3 linked regions of the Homo sapiens genome follow. The protein of the gene in region 1 purifies or fractionates together with the protein of each later gene. This does not show direct contact. Each region holds a gene or a part of one and is shown on either strand. Other genes may lie near its edges.

Evidence for each region.
Region 2: the proteins of MAP3K15 (region 1) and RAB10 fractionate together in Homo sapiens (co-fractionation; one large-scale study listed by BioGRID). This does not show direct contact.
Region 3: the proteins of MAP3K15 (region 1) and RRBP1 purify together in Homo sapiens (affinity purification with mass spectrometry, with the first as the bait; one large-scale study listed by BioGRID). This does not show direct contact.

The regions. Positions count from the first base shown.
Region 1 is NC_000023.11:19,508,871-19,512,520, reverse strand, and holds part of MAP3K15 (mitogen-activated protein kinase kinase kinase 15), read left to right. Parts: intron 1-3,650. UniProt on the Homo sapiens protein: Serine/threonine kinase which acts as a component of the MAP kinase signal transduction pathway. Once activated, acts as an upstream activator of the p38 MAPK signal transduction cascade through the phosphorylation and activation of several MAP kinase kinases.
Region 2 is NC_000002.12:26,110,460-26,114,109, reverse strand, and holds part of RAB10 (ras-related protein Rab-10), read right to left. Parts: intron 1-3,650. UniProt on the Homo sapiens protein: The small GTPases Rab are key regulators of intracellular membrane trafficking, from the formation of transport vesicles to their fusion with membranes.
Region 3 is NC_000020.11:17,658,119-17,661,768, reverse strand, and holds part of RRBP1 (ribosome-binding protein 1), read left to right. Parts: intron 1-1,240; 5' UTR 1,241-1,261; coding exon 1,262-3,173; intron 3,174-3,650. UniProt on the Homo sapiens protein: Acts as a ribosome receptor and mediates interaction between the ribosome and the endoplasmic reticulum membrane.

The sequences.
Region 1 (3,650 bases):
CCTGGGTGACAGATCGAGACCCTGTCTCTAAATAAACGAATAAATGCATGCTCCGTAGGCACAAGTAACTCCCAGGTGGGACAGTGAAGTTACAGAACTCTTTCCTCATCTCAGAAGGTCCTATTGAACAATGCTGTTCTGGAAAAAGGCTTGTGGGGGAGGGGAACTGTTGAACGGCCCAAGTATTTATTTTTAACTTTAAGTTCTGGGATACATGTGCTGAACGTGCAGGTTTGTTACATAGGTATACATGTGCCATGGTGGTTTGCTGCACCAATCAACCTGTCATCTAGGTTTTAAGCATGCATTAGGTATTTGTCCTAATGCTCTCCCTCCCCTCCCACTCCCCACAGGCCCTGGGGTGTGTGTGTGATGTTCCCCTCCCTGTGTCCATGGGTTCTCATTGTTCAACTCCCACTTATGAGTGAGAACATGTAGTGTTTGGTTTTCTGTTCCTGTGTTAGTTTGCTGAGGATGATGGTTTCCAGCTTCATCCATGTCCCTGCAAAGGACATGAACTCATCCTTTTTCATGGCTGCATAGTATTCCATTGTGTATATGTGCAACATTTTCTTTATCCAGTCTATCATTGATGGGCATTTGGGTTGGTTCCAAGTCTTTGCTATTGTAAATAGTGCTGCAGTAAACATACATTTGCCTGTGTCTTTAGAGTAGAATGATTTATAATCCTTTGGGTATATACCCAGCAATGGGATTGCTGGGTCAAATGGTATTTCTGGTTCTAGATCCTTGAGGAATTGCCACACTGTCTTTCACAATGGTTGAACTAATTCACACTCCCACCAACAGTGTAAAAGCATTCCTATTTCTCCACATCCTCTCCAGCATCTGTTGTTTCCTGACTTTTTAATGATCGCCATTCTAACTGGCGTGAGATGGTATCTCATTGTGATTTTGATTTGCATTTCTCTAATGACTAGTATTGATGGGTTTTTTTTTCATATGTTTGTTTGCCACATAAATGTCTTCTTTTGAAAAGTGTCTGTTCATATCCTTTGCTCACTTTTTGATGGGGTTGTTTTTTTCTTGTACATTTGTTTAAGTTCCTTGTAGATTCTGGATATTAGACCTTTGTCAGATTGATAGATTCCAAAAACGTTCTCCCATTCTGTAGGTTGCCTGTTCACTCTGATGATAGTTTCTTCTGCTGTGCAGAAGCTCTTTAGTTTAATTAGATTTCCTTTGTCTATTTTGGCTTTTGTTGCCGTTGCTTTTGGTGTTTAAGCCATGAAGTCCTTGCCCATGCCTATGTCCTGAATGGTATTGCCTAGGTTTTCTTCTAGGGTTTTTATGGTTTTAGGTCTTACGTTTAAGTCTTTAATCCATCTTGAGTTAATTTTTGTATAAGGTGTAAGAAAGGGGTCCAGTTTCAGTTTTCTGCATATGGCTAGCCAGTTTTCCCAGCACCATTTATTAAATAGGGAATCCTTTCCCCATTGCTTGTTTTTGTCAGGTTTGTCAAAGATCAGATGGTTGTAGATGTGTGGCGTTATTTCTGAGGCCTCTGTTCTGTTCCACTGGTCTATATTCCTTGGTATTTTATTCTCTTAGTGGCAATTGTGAATGGGAGTTCACTCATGATTTGGCTCTGTGTTTGTCTTTTATTGGTGCATAGGAATGCTTGTGATTTTTGCACATTGATTTTGTATCCTGAGACTTTGCTGAAGTTGTTTATCAGCTTAAGGAGTTTTTGGGCTGAGACCGTGGGGTTTTCTAAATATACAATCATGTTGTCTACAAACAGACGATTTGACTTCCTCTCTTCCTAATTGAATACCCTTTATTTCCTTCTCCTGCCTGATTGCCCTGGCCAGAACTTCCAACACTATGTTGAATAGGAGTGGTGAGAGAGGGCATCCCTGGCTTGTGCCAGTTTTCAAAGGGAATGCTTCCAGCTTTTGCCCATTCAGTATGATATTGGCTATGGGTTTATTTTAAATAGCTCTTATTATTTTGAGATATGTTCCATCAATACCTAGTTTGTTGAGAGTTTTTAGCATGAAGCGGTGTTGAATTTTATCGAAGGCCTTTTCTGCATCTATTGAGATAATTGTGGTTTTTGTCATTGGTTCTGTTTATGTGATCGATTATGTTTGTTGATTTGCGTATGTTGAACCAGCCTTGCATTCAGGGATGAAGCCGACTTGATCATGGTGGATAAGCTTTTTGATGTGCTGCTGGATTCGGTTTGCCAGTATTTTATTGAGGATTTTCACATCGATGTTCATCCTGAAATTTTCTTTTTTTGTTGTGTCTCTGCCAGGTTTTGGAATCAGGATAATGCTGGCCTCCTTTTCTGTTGTTTGGAATAGTTTCAGAAGGAATGGTACCAGCTCCTCTTTGTACCTCTGGTAGAATTCGGCTGTGAGTCCGTCTAGGATTTTTTTAGTTGGTAGGCTATTACTGCCTCAATTTCAGAACTTGTTATTGGTCTTTTCAGGGATTTGACTTCTTCCTGGTTTTGTCTTGGGAGGGTGTATGTGTCCAGAAATTTATCCATTTCTTCTAGATTTTCTAGTTTATTTGTGTAGATGTGTTTATAGTGTTCTCTGATGGTAGTTTGTATTTCCATGGGATCAGTGGTGATTGCCCCTTTATCATTTTCTATTGTGTCTATTTGATTCTTCTCTCTTTTCTTCTTTATTAGTCTAGGTAGTGGTCTATCAATTTTGTTGATCTTTTCAAAAAACCAGCCCCTGAATTCATTGATTTTTTTGAAGGTTTTTTCATGTCTCTATTTCCTTCAGTTCTGCTCCAATCTTAGTTATTTCTTGTCTTCTGCTAGCTTTTGAATGTGTTTGCTCTTGCTTCTCTAGTCCTTTTAATTGTGATGTTAGGGTGTCGATTTTAGATCTTTCCTGCTTTCTCTTGTGGGCATTTAGTGCTATACATTTCCCTCTAAACACTACTTTAGCTGTGTCCCAGAGATTCTGGTACATTGTATCTTTGTTCTCATTGATTTCAAAGAACATCATTATTTCTGCTTTAATTTCGTTATTTACCCAGTAGTCATTCAGGAGCAGATTGTTCAGTTTCCACGTAGTTGTGCGGTTTTGAGTGAGTTTCTTAATCCTGAGTTCTAATTTAATTGCACTGTGGTCTGAGAGGCTGTTATGATTTCTGTTCTTTTGCATTTGCTGAGGAGTGTGTTACTTCCATTTATGTGGTCGATTTTAGAATAAGTGCTATGTGGCGCTAAGAAGAATGTGTATTCTGTTGACTTGGGGTGGAGAGTTCTGTAGATATCTATCAGGTCTGCTTCGGCCCAAGTATGTTTTAGGGGCCATCATCTATGGGAAATTTAAGCACTTCCTGTGTCCTGTTCTCACAGCAAGTCAAAGTCAGGTTTGACTGTGGTTTTCCATCTCCTTGTAGTGTTTCATGGGGTCCTGTGTGGGTCTAAATCTTGGGGCTGTGTCACTAGCACATATAGTGGATTGGATGAGCTGCAGGAAAATGGCAGGCAGGCCTTGGACGTAAGCAAGAGCAAGTGGATGCTGTTGGAAAAGGAAAGTACCGTGGGCTGAGAGGGGCAGGGCATGTCCCATTTGTGTTTTCTAAATTATTTTTAAATATTTATTTTTAAATTTTTGTACATATATATAGATTTTTTTTTGAGACAGGGTCTC
Region 2 (3,650 bases), on another chromosome or scaffold:
TGGCTATCTAATTATTTAGATCTTTAATTTCTTTCAACAATATTTTGTGGTTTTCTGTGTTCAAGTCTTACACTCTTTTGGTTAAATTTACTCCTAAGTATTTTTTGCCTTTTGATATTATTACAAATGGAAATTTATTCTCAATGTAATTTTTAGGTTATTGCTAGTGTACAGAAATAAAGCTGATTTTTATATGTTGATCTCATTTCTTGTAACCTTGCTGAACTTGTTTATTAGTTCTAAGAGTTTTCTGGGTATATGTTTGTGGGTTCTTAAGGATTTTCTATATAAAATATTCTACCATTTATAAATAGTTGTTTCACTCTGGATGGCTTTTTTTCTTTCTTTCTTTTTTTTTTTTTTTTTAGCTCTGGCTGGAACTCAGCATAATGTTGAACAGAAGTGGCCAGAGTAGATATTCTTGCCATGCTCTTGATCTTAGGGGACAGGTACAATAATAGCTGTGGTATTTTTATAGATGTCACTTACAGGATTAAGGAAGTTCTTTGCTATTCCTAGTTTGTTGACTTTTTTTTGAGACAGAGTCTTGCTCTGTCGCCCAGGCTGGAGCACAATGGCACGATCTTGGCTTACTGCAACCTCCACCTCCTGGGCTCAAGCGATTCTCCTGCCTCAGCCTCCCGAGTAGCTGGGGTTACAGGTGTTTGCCATCACACCTGGCTGATTTTTGTATTTTTAGTAGAGACGAGGTTTCACCATGTTGGCCAGGCTGGTCTCGAACTCCTGACCTCAGGTGATCCACTTGCCTCGGCCTCCCAAAGTGCTGGGATTTACGGGTGTGAGCCACTGCGTTTGGCTGACTGTTTTAATCATAAAAGAATGTTGGATTTTGTCAAATGTTTTTTCTGTGTGAACTGAGATAACTGTATGGTTTTGTCGTCTATTAATATGGTGTATTACATTGACAGGTTCTGACCCTTGCATTCCTGGGTAAGTTCCTCTTGATCATGTTATATAATCCTTTAATACACCAGAGAAACAAGATTTCCTCTTTCTTTCTTTTTGAGACGGAGTTGCACTCTGCTGCCCAGGATGGAGTGCAGTGGTGCAATCTTGGCTCACTGCAACCTCCTCCGCCTCCTGGGTTCAAGTGATTCTCCTGCCTTGGCCTCCTGAGTAGCTGAGACTACAGGTGCCCACCATCATGCCCGGCTAATTTTTTGTGTTTTTCATAGAGACAGGGTTTCACCATGTCGACCAGACTGGTTTCAAACTCCTGACCTCAGGTGATCCGCCTGCCTCAGCCTCCCAAAGTGCTGGGATTACAGGCATGAGCCACTGCGCCTGGCCAAGATTTTCTTTTTAAATAACTTCTTTTCTTTTTCAGAGACAGAGTCTCACTCTGTCACCCAGGCTGAAGCACAGTGGTATGATAATAGCTCACTGCAGCCTTGAATTCTTGGGCTCAAGCAATCTTTCTGCCTCAGCCTCCCAAGTAACTGGGACCACAGGTGTACACCACCACACCCACAATTTTCCTTTTTGATACCTGGGTTGTATGTTTCTCAGTTTATCTTGGGAAACAAACCATCCAGTCTACCATGTCAGATGTTTAAGTCTGCGGTATAATAAAAACATATATTAGGTCTTTGTTCCCAGTTCCTGTCACTGACCTCCCAATTTCCTGAGTGACAGGGTTGTCTTTTGTTATTCATAACAAGATTCTTTTGACTATAATGAGTTTATGCTAATGAGGTGACTGATGACAAGGCTCCTATCTAGCTTCAGAATGGGGGCTGGTCTCCAGAGGAACCAACCAAGTGATAAGAGGATTGGAAATTTCAGTCCCACTTCCTGACCTCCTAGGAGGGGAAGGGAGACAGACATTACACTCAATCACCAGAAGTCAATGATTTAATCAATTATGCCTAAGTGATGGAACTTCAATTCAAAAATCTGAAAAACTGAGGGTAAGGAATATTCCAATTCGGTGAACACATCAAGGTGCTGGGAGAGGTGGCGTATCCAGAGAGGGGATGGAAGCTCTGGAGCCCTGCCGCTACTCCCCACATATGCCTCTCTTCCATTTGGCTGTTCCTGAATTGTATACTTTATAATGAAACTGTAATCCCAAGTATAGCATTTTCCTAAGTTCTATGACTCACCCTAGCAAATGATCACATGGAGTGGCATTGTTGGCATCCCCAAAATCTATAGCCAGCTTGGACAGAAGGCAGAAATGTGGGTAAGCCTGGGGACCCAGGACTTGCAAATGGCATCTCAAGTGAGGGCAATTTTGTAGGAATGAGTCCTTAAACTTGTGGAGTCTGATACTAATTCAGGGTAGTCAGTGTCAGAATAGCATTGAATAGCAGGACACCAGTTCATGTGGTAGAATCAGAGAATTGGTGGTTGTTGGAAACACACTGCAGAATCTCTAAACTGCTCTTACTACAGACTACTTACCTGAACAATAAAATAAAGAATAAGGAAATCAAAATAAAGCTTTTTTGTTTTAAGATTTGTATTTTTTTTTTTTTTTGAGATGGAGTTTCGCTCTTGTTGCCCAGGCTGGAGTACAATGGTGCGTGATCTCAGCTCACTGCAACCTCCACCCCCTGGGTTCAAGCGATTCTCCTGCCTCAGCCTCCCAAGTAGCTGGGATTACAGGCATGTGCCACCCCACCCAGCTAAGTTTGTATTTTTAGTAGAGACGGGGTTTCTCCATGTTGGTCAGGCTGGTCTCGAACTCCTGACCTCAGGTGATCCGCCCACCTCGGCCTCCCAGAGTGCTGGGATTACAGGCGTGAGCCACCGCGCCCAGCCAAGATCTGTGTATCTTTAAATAATTATTAAAAAATAATAAGCTTCTCCCAAAGATTTATTGTAGCAACAAAACAGTGGTAATGAGCCCTTAGGATTGCTACCATTAGGGGTATTATCTTGGGTCTAATATTGGTTTAAGACTTGGTCTTTGTGTATCTGGCCAAAATTTGCTTCAAAGAGTTACTGTTAACAAAACTCAAAGCCTAGAAGGTAGCAATAAGGCATGAAAAACAACTCTTAACAAGAAGCCACCTATGCTGTAGCAAAGAAACAGACATGCTTTGATACATAATTTTAACTTATAAAAAGTAACATCAGGCTGGGTGCAGTGGCTCATGCCTGCAATCCTAGCACTTCAGGAGGCCAAGGTGGGCAGATCACTTGAGGCCAGAAGTTCAAGACCAGCCTGGCCAACATGGCGAGACCCCATCTCTACTACAAATACAAAAATTAGCCGGGTGTGGTGGTGCACACCTGTAATTCCAGCTACTCAAGACACTAAGACACTAGAATCACTTGAACCCAGAAAGCAGAGATTGCAGTGAGCCAAGATTGTGCCACTGCACTCCAGCCTGGGTGATGAAGTGAGACTCTATCTCAAAAAAACCCAAAATACAGAAAAAAAAACAACATTTTCACATGCAATGGAACTATTTTCTTAGTTAGGTTTTTACTATATTAGTATTCCATATATTTCAAAATGCCTAGAAGCAATATTATATTTCTATAACATGAAAAATAAAGTTTTAAAAAATTACTACCGGACATTTCATTCATTCAATAAAAATTTATTAAGAAAAAATTCATTTCCAGAAAATCATTGTAAAATCACTGGTAGCTTCTATTTGGGGTCATCTTGTAAG
Region 3 (3,650 bases), on another chromosome or scaffold:
AGCATCTAGAGGTTTTGCAGGGCAATGCTGGGGGAGGCCTGTCCACTTCCCCTCCTCTCCTCTTCCACCTCCTTTTACCTCCCCTTAACCACCCCTTCTTACCCTTGTGTTCTCTTTGCTCATTCCATCGATCTTCTTTAGAGAGACTCGGGACTGGCTTGAATGTATCCAAATAAATACACCTCCTGGAGTTCCTCAGTGAAGTCGAACTTAGCCCGGGCTGTGGCAGGAAGGTGTATGAACCTGGATGCCTCTGACCCATTGGACTTTGGTCCATAGGCAGTGAGAATGGTGTTGTTCATTCTTATGGTTTGGGGAGTGTTGTCTGACAGAGGGGCCTGCTGACACTGTCTCCTCACCCTCTGTGCAGCTTCTGGATGTGAAATTCCAAACCTGGCATCTTCTGGGCCTCCCAAGACTGATTCTTCCTGTTTCCCAACATGCAAATTGCAGGCTCCATAACTCCTCAGGAGCTATTGCTGGCAAAAGGCTATTTTCCCTCACTGAATTTTTGAACACGTTTCAGGATTGTAATGCAGAAGTTTTTATCTCTGATCCTGGGTAGCAGCATTTATTGGCACTGGGGAAGAGGGAAACAACAGAGTGGAGATGGCACACTGTGGGCCTGCTGGCTAAAATGCTTGTGGCTGAAAGCCTGCAGATGTGTTTGGTTTGGTTCGGTTCACATATTTTTTAAATCAGTCAATTTCACGTTGAGAGAAAAATTTTTTAAAAGTGTCTGGCCTAACATGAAAAATCAAAACATCTTCCAACTCAGCAATCACATTTCTAGGGCAATCGGCCATGACAGAGTGTCACTGTCTAATTTTAGGTGGGGGCGGGTGTTTTTACTACAGTCTCCACCACTCCCCATGGTCTCACACCTGGCCTGTGTTTGTGCTCCTGTGCATCTTTGACCTTGGGTGGGGAATATCTTGCATCAGGGTCATGGCTGCTGAGGCTCCTGGGCGTGTGTGCTCCAGAGATAGGCCTCCACTCTGCTCTGACTCTGCTGTTGCTTTGTATGGGGACTGCTCATGCCTTGGGTACGAATCGCTCACTCCTAAAGAGGAGCAGGTGAGAATGTGGGACATCAGAGAGTGCCTGGGTTTGTTTCTTCTCTGAATTTATTAGCCTGAAGAAAGAATTAGTGAAACCTGAAGTTTGGTGGTAGGGTGGGGATAGAAACTGTTGAAGGCCTTGATTTCTATAAATAGTAACCTCCATGTATGTTTGACAGGTGAAAGGAAAGCAAGCCAGGATGGATATTTACGACACTCAAACCTTGGGGGTTGTGGTCTTTGGAGGATTCATGGTTGTTTCTGCCATTGGCATCTTCCTGGTGTCGACTTTCTCCATGAAGGAAACGTCATATGAAGAAGCCCTAGCCAACCAGCGCAAGGAGATGGCGAAAACTCACCACCAGAAAGTCGAGAAGAAAAAGAAGGAGAAAACAGTGGAGAAGAAAGGAAAGACCAAGAAAAAGGAAGAGAAACCTAATGGGAAGATACCTGATCATGATCCAGCCCCCAATGTGACTGTCCTCCTTCGAGAACCAGTGCGGGCTCCTGCTGTGGCTGTGGCTCCAACCCCAGTGCAGCCCCCCATTATCGTTGCTCCTGTCGCCACAGTTCCAGCCATGCCCCAGGAGAAGCTGGCCTCCTCCCCCAAGGACAAAAAGAAGAAGGAGAAAAAAGTGGCAAAAGTGGAACCAGCTGTCAGCTCTGTAGTGAATTCCATCCAGGTTCTCACTTCGAAGGCTGCCATCTTGGAAACTGCTCCCAAGGAGGTGCCGATGGTGGTGGTGCCCCCAGTGGGTGCCAAGGGCAACACACCAGCCACTGGCACTACTCAGGGCAAAAAGGCGGAGGGGACTCAGAATCAAAGCAAAAAGGCTGAAGGAGCCCCAAACCAGGGCAGAAAGGCAGAGGGAACCCCAAACCAGGGCAAAAAGACAGAGGGAACCCCAAACCAAGGGAAAAAGGCAGAGGGAACCCCAAACCAAGGCAAAAAGGCAGAAGGAACCCCAAACCAAGGCAAAAAGGCGGAGGGGGCCCAGAACCAGGGTAAAAAGGTAGATACAACCCCAAACCAGGGGAAAAAGGTGGAGGGGGCCCCAACCCAGGGCAGAAAGGCCGAGGGGGCTCAGAACCAGGCCAAAAAGGTAGAAGGGGCCCAGAACCAGGGCAAAAAGGCAGAGGGGGCCCAGAATCAGGGCAAAAAGGGAGAGGGGGCCCAGAACCAGGGCAAGAAGGCCGAGGGGGCCCAGAATCAGGGCAAGAAGGCCGAGGGGGCCCAGAATCAGGGCAAGAAGGCCGAGGGGGCCCAGAATCAGGGCAAGAAGGCCGAGGGGGCCCAGAATCAGGGCAAGAAGGCTGAGGGGGCTCAGAACCAGGGCAAAAAGGCCGAGGGGGCTCAGAACCAGGGCAAAAAAGTAGAAGGGGCCCAGAACCAGGGCAAGAAGGCTGAGGGTGCCCAGAACCAGGGCAAAAAGGCCGAGGGGGCCCAGAATCAGGGCAAAAAGGCCGAGGGGGCCCAGAACCAGGGCAAGAAGGCCGAGGGGGCCCAGAACCAGGGCAAGAAGGCCGAGGGGGCCCAGAACCAGGGCAAGAAGGCCGAGGGGGCCCAGAACCAGGGCAAGAAGGCCGAGGGTGCTCAGAACCAGGGCAAAAAAGTAGAAGGGGCCCAGAACCAGGGCAAGAAGGCTGAGGGGGCCCAGAACCAGGGCAAGAAGGCCGAGGGGGCTCAGAACCAGGGCAAAAAGGCCGAGGGAGCCCAGAACCAGGGCCAAAAAGGAGAGGGAGCCCAGAATCAGGGTAAAAAGACAGAAGGGGCTCAGGGCAAAAAGGCAGAAAGGAGTCCCAACCAAGGCAAAAAAGGAGAGGGAGCTCCCATCCAGGGCAAAAAGGCAGATTCGGTTGCTAATCAGGGCACAAAGGTAGAGGGTATTACAAACCAGGGGAAAAAAGCAGAAGGGTCCCCCAGTGAAGGCAAAAAGGCAGAAGGGTCCCCCAACCAAGGCAAAAAGGCAGACGCAGCTGCCAATCAGGGTAAAAAGACAGAGTCAGCTTCTGTCCAGGGCAGAAATACAGATGTGGCCCAGAGCCCAGAGGCACCAAAGCAAGAGGCTCCTGCCAAGAAGAAGTCTGGTTCAAAGAAAAAAGGTGAGCCTGGTAAGTAACTGATTTCTTTATGAACTTAGAAGGAAAGGCTGTCTTTAAATGACTTATGGATTCTCTCGGGGAGTGCCACCTGTATCAGTCAGCTATTGTCATAATAAGGCTGCGTAACAAACATTCAAAAAAAAATTCAGTGGCCTTCAACAGCAGTCATTTATTGTTGCTCATGCTTCTGGAGGTTGGCAGATGTGAGCTTTCTCGGTTGGTGGCTCTGCCTCAATCTGGTTTTAACTGGGTTGGTGACTCTTTGCTACAGGTTGAGCTCAGGTCAGTTCCATGTGTGGTCCTTCTGGCGCCCTCCAGGGCAGAGGCCCTTCATAGTTACAACAGAGGCACAAAAGGGCATTTCAAGTCAGCATTTCATTGACCAGATCAAGTGATGTGTCTGAGCCTGAGTCAAGGGGCAGGGAGTCCACTGTGTCCAGGGAGAAGGGACTGCAAGGTGATGTGAGAAAGGAGAGGTGAGGAGTG